Homo sapiens: one gene and its partners. The protein of the gene in region 1 interacts with the protein of each later gene in a pairwise test. Each region holds a gene or a part of one and is shown in the gene's direction. Other genes may lie near its edges.

Evidence for each region.
Region 2: the proteins of NBL1 (region 1) and SDC2 interact in binary tests that used the Homo sapiens proteins (3 or more experiments, as listed by UniProt).
Region 3: the proteins of NBL1 (region 1) and ZMIZ2 interact in binary tests that used the Homo sapiens proteins (3 or more experiments, as listed by UniProt).

What each region holds. Positions count from the first base shown.
Region 1 is NC_000001.11:19,654,311-19,657,910, forward strand, and holds part of NBL1 (neuroblastoma suppressor of tumorigenicity 1 isoform 2 precursor), read left to right. Parts: intron 1-701; coding exon of another isoform or gene 702-720; coding exon 721-890; intron 891-1,013; coding exon 1,014-1,125; intron 1,126-2,555; coding exon 2,556-2,819; 3' UTR 2,820-3,600. Other genes in the region: MICOS10-NBL1 (neuroblastoma suppressor of tumorigenicity 1 isoform a precursor), read left to right, coding at 702-890, 1,014-1,125, 2,556-2,819. UniProt on the Homo sapiens protein: Possible candidate as a tumor suppressor gene of neuroblastoma. May play an important role in preventing cells from entering the final stage (G1/S) of the transformation process.
Region 2 is NC_000008.11:96,608,618-96,612,315, forward strand, and holds the end of SDC2 (syndecan-2 precursor), read left to right. Parts: intron 1-767; coding exon 768-931; 3' UTR 932-3,173; downstream 3,174-3,698. UniProt on the Homo sapiens protein: Cell surface proteoglycan which regulates dendritic arbor morphogenesis.
Region 3 is NC_000007.14:44,758,822-44,762,641, forward strand, and holds part of ZMIZ2 (zinc finger MIZ domain-containing protein 2), read left to right. Parts: intron 1-459; coding exon 460-639; intron 640-742; exon of another isoform or gene 743-754; coding exon of another isoform or gene 755-925; intron 926-1,329; coding exon 1,330-1,407; intron 1,408-1,603; coding exon 1,604-1,772; intron 1,773-2,600; coding exon of another isoform or gene 2,601-2,627; coding exon 2,628-2,772; intron 2,773-2,873; coding exon 2,874-3,084; intron 3,085-3,820. UniProt on the Homo sapiens protein: Increases ligand-dependent transcriptional activity of AR and other nuclear hormone receptors.

The sequences.
Region 1 (3,600 bases):
AGGATCACCTGAGCCCAGGGAAGTCGAGGCTTCAGTGAGCCGTGATCATGCCACTGCACTCCAGCGTGGGTGACCGAGTGAGATCTTTTCTCAAAAAACAAAACCAAAAAGAAATCACAGCAACGTGAAGGTTAAGGCTAACTTTTCAAACATCAGAATCCTGACAATGGTTGCAGTAGCTTTCAAGGAGACATGGTGTGTGGCCAGCCCCTCCAGGGCTGTGTGGACAGCTTTTTGTGTATTTTCCTGGGTGACTCACAGCATCAAAGGGAGAAAGGAGGTAGTAATTGTTCAGCACTTGACATGTGCTTGAACACTTCGTAATCGCAATCCTGTGCCAGGCAGTGGCACCATCTCCCCTTTTTAGATGAAGAAACCGAGGCACCGAGATAAAAAGTAACTTGCTCAAGGCAATTTAGGAAGTTGTAAAACCAACCAACACATATGGAATGTGTATTATCTGCTAGGCTCATTTAATATCTCATCTGACCTTCCAGATACCCATCTGATGTAGGTACCACTCCCAGCTCCAATTGTGAGATTCAGAGGGGAGAAATAACTTGTCCAAAGTTGCACTTGGTTAGTAAGTGGGAGAGCTGGGGTTGCGCCAAGGAGTCGGATGCCAGAGTCCATGCTGTAACACCACTACCCGGCCCCCTGCACCTTGCTGTGCCTCACCTGGCACCTGTGCTCCGTTCTAGGGCTCTGGAGGCCACGGGCATGATGCTTCGGGTCCTGGTGGGGGCTGTCCTCCCTGCCATGCTACTGGCTGCCCCACCACCCATCAACAAGCTGGCACTGTTCCCAGATAAGAGTGCCTGGTGCGAAGCCAAGAACATCACCCAGATCGTGGGCCACAGCGGCTGTGAGGCCAAGTCCATCCAGAACAGGTGGGACCCAAGGGGTGGGTGGGGGGATGCGGACAGGGGTCCAAGGAGGGAGGAAGAGGACCAGGGCTGCCCATCCCTGCCTCCCCAACAGTGACACAGGCATGGTGACCTCTCCTCCCACAGGGCGTGCCTAGGACAGTGCTTCAGCTACAGCGTCCCCAACACCTTCCCACAGTCCACAGAGTCCCTGGTTCACTGTGACTCCTGCATGCCAGCCCAGTCCATGTGGGAGATTGTGAGTACTGCCTGCCTGCCCCACCCAGTCTCGGCCCGGAGCCTGCCCCAGCCTTGGCCTTTCTCCCCAGGCTCCTGTATTCCAGCAGATGGCCACAGGGCCTTAGAAAGGCCCCACTGTGTGCAGGGTGAAGGGCTTGTGCTGGGGATACAAATGTGGGCCTCCCCACAGGATGGCTCAGAAGTCTGACACCAACTTGTACAGGACAGGGATGTTCCCGAAGTTCCATTCTGATGTCTCTCATGGGCTGAAGTCCTTTCAGGGGCTTCCTGTTGTTATAGGATGAGACCAAAATCTTTGCCCTGTCCCGAGAACCTGGCATGGCCTGGCTCAGTGGCCTTTCCAGCCTCCTCCTGCTTCCTGCCTTCCTTAGTAGCTTGACGCTTAACACAGCCACCTTCTTTCAGTGCCTCGCACCTGCTCCGTTCGCTTCTACCCCAGGGCCCTTGCACCTGTTCTTTTCCCTGCTTGGAACACCACCTCTGTCCCCTTTCTCTAGTTCACTTCTATTCATTCTTCTGCCCTTGGCCCAAGCAGCGTTTCCTCAGGGCCCCTTTCCAGGCCCCCTGACTGGGGCACACCCTGGTACCGTTGGCTCTCAGAGCACAGTATGCCTCCGCTTCAAGCACCTTTCACACCTGCAGTCTTCCACCTGCATCCGGGTGATTTTGACAGATCTGTTTCCCCCACTAGACTCTGATTTCCTTGAAGGAAATGTGTCTTTGTGTCCCCAGAGCTGGCACAGGGTAGGCGCTCTGTGGAAGGGAGGAAGGAAGAGAGGAAGGGAGGGAGAAGGAAAAAAGGTACTTAGATGGGTGATGATAGGGGCAGAGTAGGAGGTAGATGGGGTTCCTGCAGGGTGAGCCTCAGCTGGGCTGGGCTTTGGGGTGGGGCTCTTTTGAGGAAGTGAAGTCTGAGCTCAGACCCAAAGGCGCAGTTTAGGGCATGTGGTAGTCGGCGGGGATAGGGGGGTGGGTGGGGGGAACCTTCCAGGCAAAGGGAACAGCATGTGCGGAGTCCCTGAGGCAGAGCCCAAGCACAGGATTGGTAAGAGTGGTGCAGGGTCAGGGGTAGGGGGGCCAGCCAGCTGGTGGCACCTGAAGGTCCTGGGTGGCCTTAGTGAGGGGTCAGGGTTTGTCTCCAAGTGCAGGGGGATCGCGGCGGTGGGGGCGATTTTAGCAGGGGCAGGCCACACTGGTGGCTGCTGGTGGGGAATGGGTGGGAAGGTGGCAGGACTGGATGTGAGGAGACAGCTCTGGTGGCTTGTGCAGGGGTTCAATTTCCCCCTCCCCATGGGACCCCAGAGCTAACTGGGCATCACAGGTGGGCTCTGGGATTCTTGATCCCATGAGGAAGTATTACCCTAGGGGCTGCCTTGCCTGCCCCAGACCTTTGGGAACATGCCTCTGCTTCTCTCTTGCCCTCTGCAGGTGACGCTGGAGTGCCCGGGCCACGAGGAGGTGCCCAGGGTGGACAAGCTGGTGGAGAAGATCCTGCACTGTAGCTGCCAGGCCTGCGGCAAGGAGCCTAGTCACGAGGGGCTGAGCGTCTATGTGCAGGGCGAGGACGGGCCGGGATCCCAGCCCGGCACCCACCCTCACCCCCATCCCCACCCCCATCCTGGCGGGCAGACCCCTGAGCCCGAGGACCCCCCTGGGGCCCCCCACACAGAGGAAGAGGGGGCTGAGGACTGAGGCCCCCCCAACTCTTCCTCCCCTCTCATCCCCCTGTGGAATGTTGGGTCTCACTCTCTGGGGAAGTCAGGGGAGAAGCTGAAGCCCCCCTTTGGCACTGGATGGACTTGGCTTCAGACTCGGACTTGAATGCTGCCCGGTTGCCATGGAGATCTGAAGGGGCGGGGTTAGAGCCAAGCTGCACAATTTAATATATTCAAGAGTGGGGGGAGGAAGCAGAGGTCTTCAGGGCTCTTTTTTTGGGGGGGGTGGTCTCTTCCTGTCTGGCTTCTAGAGATGTGCCTGTGGGAGGGGGAGGAAGTTGGCTGAGCCATTGAGTGCTGGGGGAGGCCATCCAAGATGGCATGAATCGGGCTAAGGTCCCTGGGGGTGCAGATGGTACTGCTGAGGTCCCGGGCTTAGTGTGAGCATCTTGCCAGCCTCAGGCTTGAGGGAGGGCTGGGCTAGAAAGACCACTGGCAGAAACAGGAGGCTCCGGCCCACAGGTTTCCCCAAGGCCTCTCACCCCACTTCCCATCTCCAGGGAAGCGTCGCCCCAGTGGCACTGAAGTGGCCCTCCCTCAGCGGAGGGGTTTGGGAGTCAGGCCTGGGCAGGACCCTGCTGACTCGTGGCGCGGGAGCTGGGAGCCAGGCTCTCCGGGCCTTTCTCTGGCTTCCTTGGCTTGCCTGGTGGGGGAAGGGGAGGAGGGGAAGAAGGAAAGGGAAGAGTCTTCCAAGGCCAGAAGGAGGGGGACAACCCCCCAAGACCATCCCTGAAGACGAGCATCCCCCTCCTCTCCCT
Region 2 (3,698 bases), on another chromosome or scaffold:
GGCTCAGCAAACATTGTCTTTATTGTCTGCCAGCTCCCTCAACCTACCTCTTCGCCAGCCATCGGGCAGGGGATAGGAGGTAGCCTAAAAGAGGGAAAGTTAACATCTGAATTGATCCAGAACAACTGGATGTAGAGAGATGGCAGAGTGTGGAGATCCATCAGTCTTGCTCACAGGCATTCTACATTTCAAAATAAAGAGAACGAAAAGTTCTTTAGGGGAAGGCAGTTCATATAAGTACTGCCCAAAGTGTTAAGAACGTTGTTTCTATTTTAACTTAATTGGATGGAAGTGCAAATATTTTAAAGGGGAAAACTTTCAAGATTTAGGCACACTTGGTAGTCTCAAATCCAAGAATAGAAATAAATTTGCATGCTTTTTTTCATGTATACTCTTTAAAATTTTAAGTCAATTATACTATGTTCTCTGTTGAAAAAAAGCAGTTAGAAAATTAGAATATGAAATGTGAGTTCTGAAAAGACAAAAGTAGTTTTCAAGTATGGAATTAGTTAAGATCAAGGCCAGATTTTTCTTATCGAGGTTTTTGGGTGGTATTATTAACACTAACCAAAGAAATTACTGTACCTTCCTGAGGAGTTTCAGATTTGCATAGTTACCAGGTTGCTTCATTGAATCCAGCTTTTTTTTTATTGGGGTTTTCAAATTAAGCCTTTTATAAAAGTGTAAGTAGATTAGGCTTGACAATAAAGCTAATGTCTGCAACCCTTGAATCTCTTCTAAAGTAATCTTCCTTTTGGTTGTTTCAGCTGTCATTGCTGGTGGAGTTATTGGCTTTCTCTTTGCAATTTTTCTTATCCTGCTGTTGGTGTATCGCATGAGAAAGAAGGATGAAGGAAGCTATGACCTTGGAGAACGCAAACCATCCAGTGCTGCTTATCAGAAGGCACCTACTAAGGAGTTTTATGCGTAAAACTCCAACTTAGTGTCTCTATTTATGAGATCACTGAACTTTTCAAAATAAAGCTTTTGCATAGAATAATGAAGATCTTTGTTTTTTGTTTTCATTAAAGAGCCATTCTGGCACTTTAATGATAAAATCCCATTGTATTTAAAACATTTCATGTATTTCTTTAGAACAACATAAAATTAAAATTTAACATCTGCAGTGTTCTGTGAATAGCAGTGGCAAAATATTATGTTATGAAAACCCTCGATGTTCATGGAATTGGTTTAAACTTTTATGCGCAAATACAAAATGATTGTCTTTTTCCTATGACTCAAAGATGAAAGCTGTTTCATTTGTGTCAGCATGTCTCAGATTGACCTTACCAAGTTGGTCTTACTTTGTTAATTTATCTGTTGTCCCCTTCCTCTCCTCTGCCCTCCCTTCTTGTGCCCTTAAAACCAAACCCTATGCCTTTTGTAGCTGTCATGGTGCAATTTGTCTTTGGAAAATTCAGATAATGGTAATTTAGTGTATATGTGATTTTCAAATATGTAAACTTTAACTTCCACTTTGTATAAATTTTTAAGTGTCAGACTATCCATTTTACACTTGCTTTATTTTTCATTACCTGTAGCTTTGGGCAGATTTGCAACAGCAAATTAATGTGTAAAATTGGATTATTACTACAAAACCGTTTAGTCATATCTATCTAATCAGATCTTCTTTTGGGAGGATTTGATGTAAGTTACTGACAAGCCTCAGCAAACCCAAAGATGTTAACAGTATTTTAAGAAGTTGCTGCAGATTCCTTTGGCCACTGTATTTGTTAATTTCTTGCAATTTGAAGGTACGAGTAGAGGTTTAAAGAAAAATCAGTTTTTGTTCTTAAAAATGCATTTAAGTTGTAAACGTCTTTTTAAGCCTTTGAAGTGCCTCTGATTCTATGTAACTTGTTGCAGACTGGTGTTAATGAGTATATGTAACAGTTTAAAAAAAAAGTTGGTATTTTATAAGCACAGACAATTCTAATGGTAACTTTTGTAGTCTTATGAATAGACATAAATTGTAATTTGGGAACATAAAAACTACTGAATAAATCATGTGGCCTAATATTGAAAATGTCACTGTTATAAATTTTGTACATTTTTGATCAAATGTACATCTCCCCTTTGCTAACGGCCGTCTGCTCTCAAGGATGACGTGGGTTTGATTTCTAAGTGTTTCACAGTGTCTGTAAATCAAGACCAAAGAGCCTGTCGATGAGACTGTTTATTACCAGATTCACTTCTGAATTGGCCAGAGGAAATCTGAATGTATTATCCTGTGTGTGTCTAGGTAGAGATATTGGAAGGCTGCCAGGGGATTTCGAAGTTTGCAACCTTTATAGGATAACTGATGGCAATATTAAGACAGACGCCTGCTTTTGCAAATAACTTACAAGACTGTAAATTCCAAAGATCTGAATGGGGCTTTCCTGATGTTGGTATCTAAGGCTTAGGCCTATAGATTGATTTACCTTTGGAATTGTGCTCCAAATGTCTACTGAAGCTTAACCGAAGAACTAATAAATGGACTACAGTAGCTCACGTTACAGGGAAGGAGGGTAGGCAGGGAGGCTCTGTGTGTTAAAATGAGGGTCTCACTGCTTTAGGATTGAAGTGGCTGGAAAGAGTGATGCCTGGGGAAGGAGATGGAGTTATGAGGGTACTGTGGCTGGTACTTTCTGTACTAAACATTTCCTTTTTCTATTTTACCACTAATTTTGTTTTAAACTGTGAGCCGTCCAAGTCAGAAGAAGACAGCAAAAAAAGCAACTTTTCCAACATACAATTTACTTTTAATAAAGTATGAATATTTCATTTTGAGAACATTCCCTGGAATTGCCACATAATTCATTAAAAACATTTTTTTAAGCAACACTTGGAACAGTGTTTACTTTAAATCCTTAATGGCCTTAATTAATTCTCAGATTCCTGCCCCATCACTTACAGAACCAATTCACTTTAGAGTGACTAAAAGGAAACGATAGCCTAGCTTTCTAAAGCCACGCTGTGTCCCTCAATTACAGAGGGTAGGAATGGGTATACCTCTAACTGTGCAAAGCAGAGTGAAATTCAATTCATAGAATAACAACTGCTGGGAATATCCGTGCCAGGAAAAGAAAAATTTCTGGCAAATATTTTGTCACTGCTGTAAAGCAAAATATTTGTGAAAGTGCCAAAATAAAGTCTGTCATGCCAAAAGTAAATCATTGTATAGACTGACATCCAGTTTTCTTCAACTGTACACTTTCTGCTTAGTTTTTTTTTTTTAAGATGCAGTAAATAATACTATAAAAAGTGTTAGTAATGATTACTGAGTTCAGGAAAATTTTGGTAAAATGTAAATATTAAAGCCAATGTGAAAATTTCCTGTTTCCTTAACCACATGTAAACGATTTCTCTTGAGTGAATATGGCTTTGTGTTTGAGAGACTTGAGATAGTCACACTGTCCCATTTTCAGCCCGTAGGGGGAATAGGAAGCACTTGGGTTTTATTTTTGTTTTTCAGTTTTAGTTGCAGGTGCGTAGTACCTGAATTTCAGGATTAGGACCTGTTTAATAAAAGTGAACAAGATTATAAAAATTGCCATTTCTTAAGGGTTGATAGTTTCTCATCAAACGTTTACTGAATTTTTGTCCATGCACTTTTTTGCAAGTTAGACAAAATGTACTTGTTATGGATGTAGTCTGTTAGGTCTAGGAGAGTAAGCTAATTAAATAGAATATGATTACTTTCTTCAAGTGTCCCT
Region 3 (3,820 bases), on another chromosome or scaffold:
GAGAATTGCTTGAACCCAGCAGGCAGAGGTTGCAGTGAGCTGAGATCATGCCACTGCACTCCAGCCTGGGTGACAGAATAAGACTCCATCTCAAAAAAAAAAAAAAAAAAATTAGCCGGGCGTGGTGGTGTGCACCTGTAATTCCAGCTACTTGGGAGGCTGAGGCAGGAGAATTGCTTGAACCCAGGAGGTGGAGGCTGCAGTGAGCCAAGATTGCACCACTGCACTTCAGCCTGGGCAACAGAGTGAGACTGTCTCAAATTAAAAAAAAAAAAAAAAAAAAAAACAGGCTTCTGCATGTGAGAACTGCCTGTGCCTGACAGTGTCACAGCAGGATCTTCAAGGGAACCAGGAAATCTCCATTCCCCGAACCCTGCCACACATGAGACTCTACTTCCTTCTGGAACCAGCTCCCCTGATGCCTTTTTTCTCCCCTCGGGCATTTTGCCTCTTTTTCAGGTGTATCCAGGGCAGCAGTATCTGCAAGGAGGCCAGTATGCACCCAGCACCGCCCAGTTTGCGCCCAGCCCTGGGCAGCCCCCTGCCCCCTCCCCTTCCTACCCTGGGCACAGGCTGCCCCTGCAGCAGGGCATGACCCAGTCCCTGTCCGTGCCTGGCCCCACGGGACTGCATTATAAGGTAGGGCAGGCTCCTCCAGGCCCTGTGCCGGGCTCCGTGCTGAGTGCTGTGGGACAGGGGACCTTGGGGCAGTCCTGTCCTCGAGAGCGACAGGGTGGCTAAAGGGGCCAGCAGGATGTGTAGGTCCATGTGTGCTCATGGACCACAGCTCTACAGGAGATGGGGGGTGGGGGGTGGGGGCATTCTGACCAGTGCAGGAGCAGCTCCTGGGGTTTGGGATCCAGTTCCGAAAGGACCCTCTACAAGATTCATATATCTCAGGGGTATCCTGTGCAGGGAGCAGCAGGTGGGTACCCAAAACATTTGAATGTTCTTTATGGAAAAGTGTCATTCCTTCTACTTGCTGCAGAGAAATCCATTGAGAGGACAGGCCCTCGCTGCTGGCCATGTACCCTTTCTGGGTGCATGGGCAGAGCCTACCTCCCTGGGAGCCTGGGTGCGCCGGGTGGTGCAGCTTGGGGGAGGAGAGGAGGAGGGCTTAGCGTGCTTTTGTCTTTTCAGCCCCTCCAACCTGTTTGATCATTTTCCTCTGTGGCTATGATTGCTTTAAGTAGTGTTACTTGTAGATTATTTGGAAAATACAAGAGAGTGTAAAGAAGACCGTGTATGGTGGGCTTCTAGGGTCAGGTCCAGGGGGCCCGGCAGGGGTCAGGTTGGAGCCCCAGGTGCATGCAGTTTTCTCTCCCGCAGCCCACAGAGCAGTTCAACGGGCAGGGCGCCAGCTTCAACGGGGGCAGCGTCAGCTACAGCCAACCTGGCCTGAGTGGGGTAGGGGGCCTGGCCGGGAGGATGGGCCGGGAGGCTCACAGGGTGGGCATATGGAGAGAGGGCGACCGGGCAGGCACCCCTGGGGCCGCCTCCTGTCCACCTCTGTTATCATGGTTCCCAGTGGGTGCGCCGTGAACAGACTCCACTCCCATCCACCCTGGCAATCTGCCTTGACTGTTTGTGCTCAACCCTACAGCCTACCCGTTCCATCCCGGGCTATCCCAGTTCCCCACTGCCAGGGAACCCCACGCCACCCATGACCCCAAGCAGCAGCGTCCCTTACATGTCACCAAACCAAGAGGTCAAGTCTCCCTTCTTGCCTGATCTCAAGCCCAACCTCAACTCCTTGCACTCATCGCCCTCTGGTAAGTCTGTCCACTCTTGGGACAGCGGGGTGACAAGGCCAGGGTGGGCATGGGGGAATCACAGGACTCCAGAGAGTCCTGTAGGAGCTTGGGGGACAGGGGATGGCTGCCATATCCCTAAGAAAAGGGCTGGGTGTGGTGGCTCACACTTGTAATCCCAGCACCTTCGGAGGCTGAGCACAAGAGTTCAAGGTTACCGTGAGTGTGATCTTGCCACTGCACTTCAACCTGGGTCCCAAAGCAAGACCCTGTCTTAAAAAAAAAAAAAAAAAAGGCCAAGGATTCCATCTTCTTAAAGACAAGTCGCTTAGTGCCAAGCCTTCACCTTTTTGTTCTGTTTGTGGCTTTCTTTGCAAAGGAGGCTGTGGCTCTTCTCTCCCCTGTGCACAAAATGTTGTATATAATTTCAGGGGATTTATGAACCCCGGAAGCCCATTCCAGGGAGACCACAGCAGCAGAAGTTGGGATCGTAGAACTCTAAACAGAGCTATAGGGCAATTGCAGGAGGCTCTCACACACCTTGGCCTCCCAGTCTCTCTGAAAGCACTGGAAACACCTTTTGTCTGGGCTGGGGACATGTTCCCCTATTATGGTTTAGGGGACACTGGGCTGGACTGCTGAGGCAGGAGGCAAGACAGAACATCACGACCGAATGCCCAGGCCTCAGGAGAGATGCTGCCCATGGCCCCAGCCCCAGGGCACCACTCAGGCCTGCCAAGCAGTGCCTGACAGGAGGGGCTCCCTTCACCAAGGTCCCTGCGGGGAAGGTGGCTGGGGAGCCGCTGCCCTCCTTGAGTGACACAAGACGCTCTGGCTGGGGCAACCCAGCTCACAGCCAGTGGCCTCTGCTCCCAGGAAGCGGGCCTTGTGACGAGTTGCGGCTGACCTTCCCTGTGCGCGATGGGGTGGTCCTGGAGCCCTTCCGCCTGCAGCACAACCTGGCTGTAAGCAACCATGTCTTCCAGCTGCGAGACTCAGTCTACAAGACCCTGATAATGAGGTGAGCTCCGCCTGGCCCCCACCTGACCCCCACGAGGCTCTGTTCCTCCTCCCACACTCTCAGGGCCCGTTTTCTGGGTGTCCACCCATCTTCCTGAGCAGGCCTGACCTGGAGCTGCAATTCAAGTGCTACCACCACGAGGACCGGCAGATGAACACCAACTGGCCAGCCTCGGTGCAGGTCAGCGTCAATGCCACGCCGCTCACCATCGAGCGTGGCGACAACAAGACCTCGCACAAGCCACTCTACCTGAAGCATGTGTGCCAGCCAGGCCGCAACACCATCCAGATCACCGTCACCGCCTGCTGCTGCGTGCGTGTCCTGCGCCGAGGGGGCGGTGCTGTGGCGTGGGGCGGGGTGTGGTGGGGCCTGGCCCAGCGGTGCCGTGGGGTGGGGCGGGGTGTGGGCGGGGCCTGGCCCAGCGGCGCAGTGGGAGCGGAGCCAGGACATGGGCGGGCCGGCCTGCAGCACCATCAGATCATGCCGCCGTCTGCTGTTTTGCTGTCCACCGCCTGCTGTAGCATGTGTGCCCCCTTGCAGGGTGGAGAGCAGGACGTGGGGGCTTTATTATTTCAGAAAAATGCGTTGCTTCTCTTTGTTACTGCCTTGTATTTCTATTTTAATCTGTCATCCTTGCCCTTTAAGAAAGCGATCCAGTAATATACCCTAGCTGTTTTCCAGTTAGAGTAAATTGACTAGATTTGATGCTCACATTAATTATGTAAGAGAAACCAGGATATGCAGAAAGCTCATGGAGCTCGGAGTCCCCGGCTGATCAAGCATTACCGGTTCTAGCAAGCATCAGGGTCACCCTTGGGCTAGAGAAGAAAGACATGGCTTATGAGTGCACTAGTCAGCCTGGGCATGAGGGCCTTGGGGACGGGTTGGCCACACACCACATTGTCTGGGATGTGGCAGATGTCAACACAGACCCAGCATCTGTGACTGTGGATGTGCGAGCAGGGGGAACGTTCAAGGGGACTTGAGGTGATTCTCTTCATGGAGAAGTGGTGACTAGGCAATGGTTAGACCGGCAGGATGCCCAGCA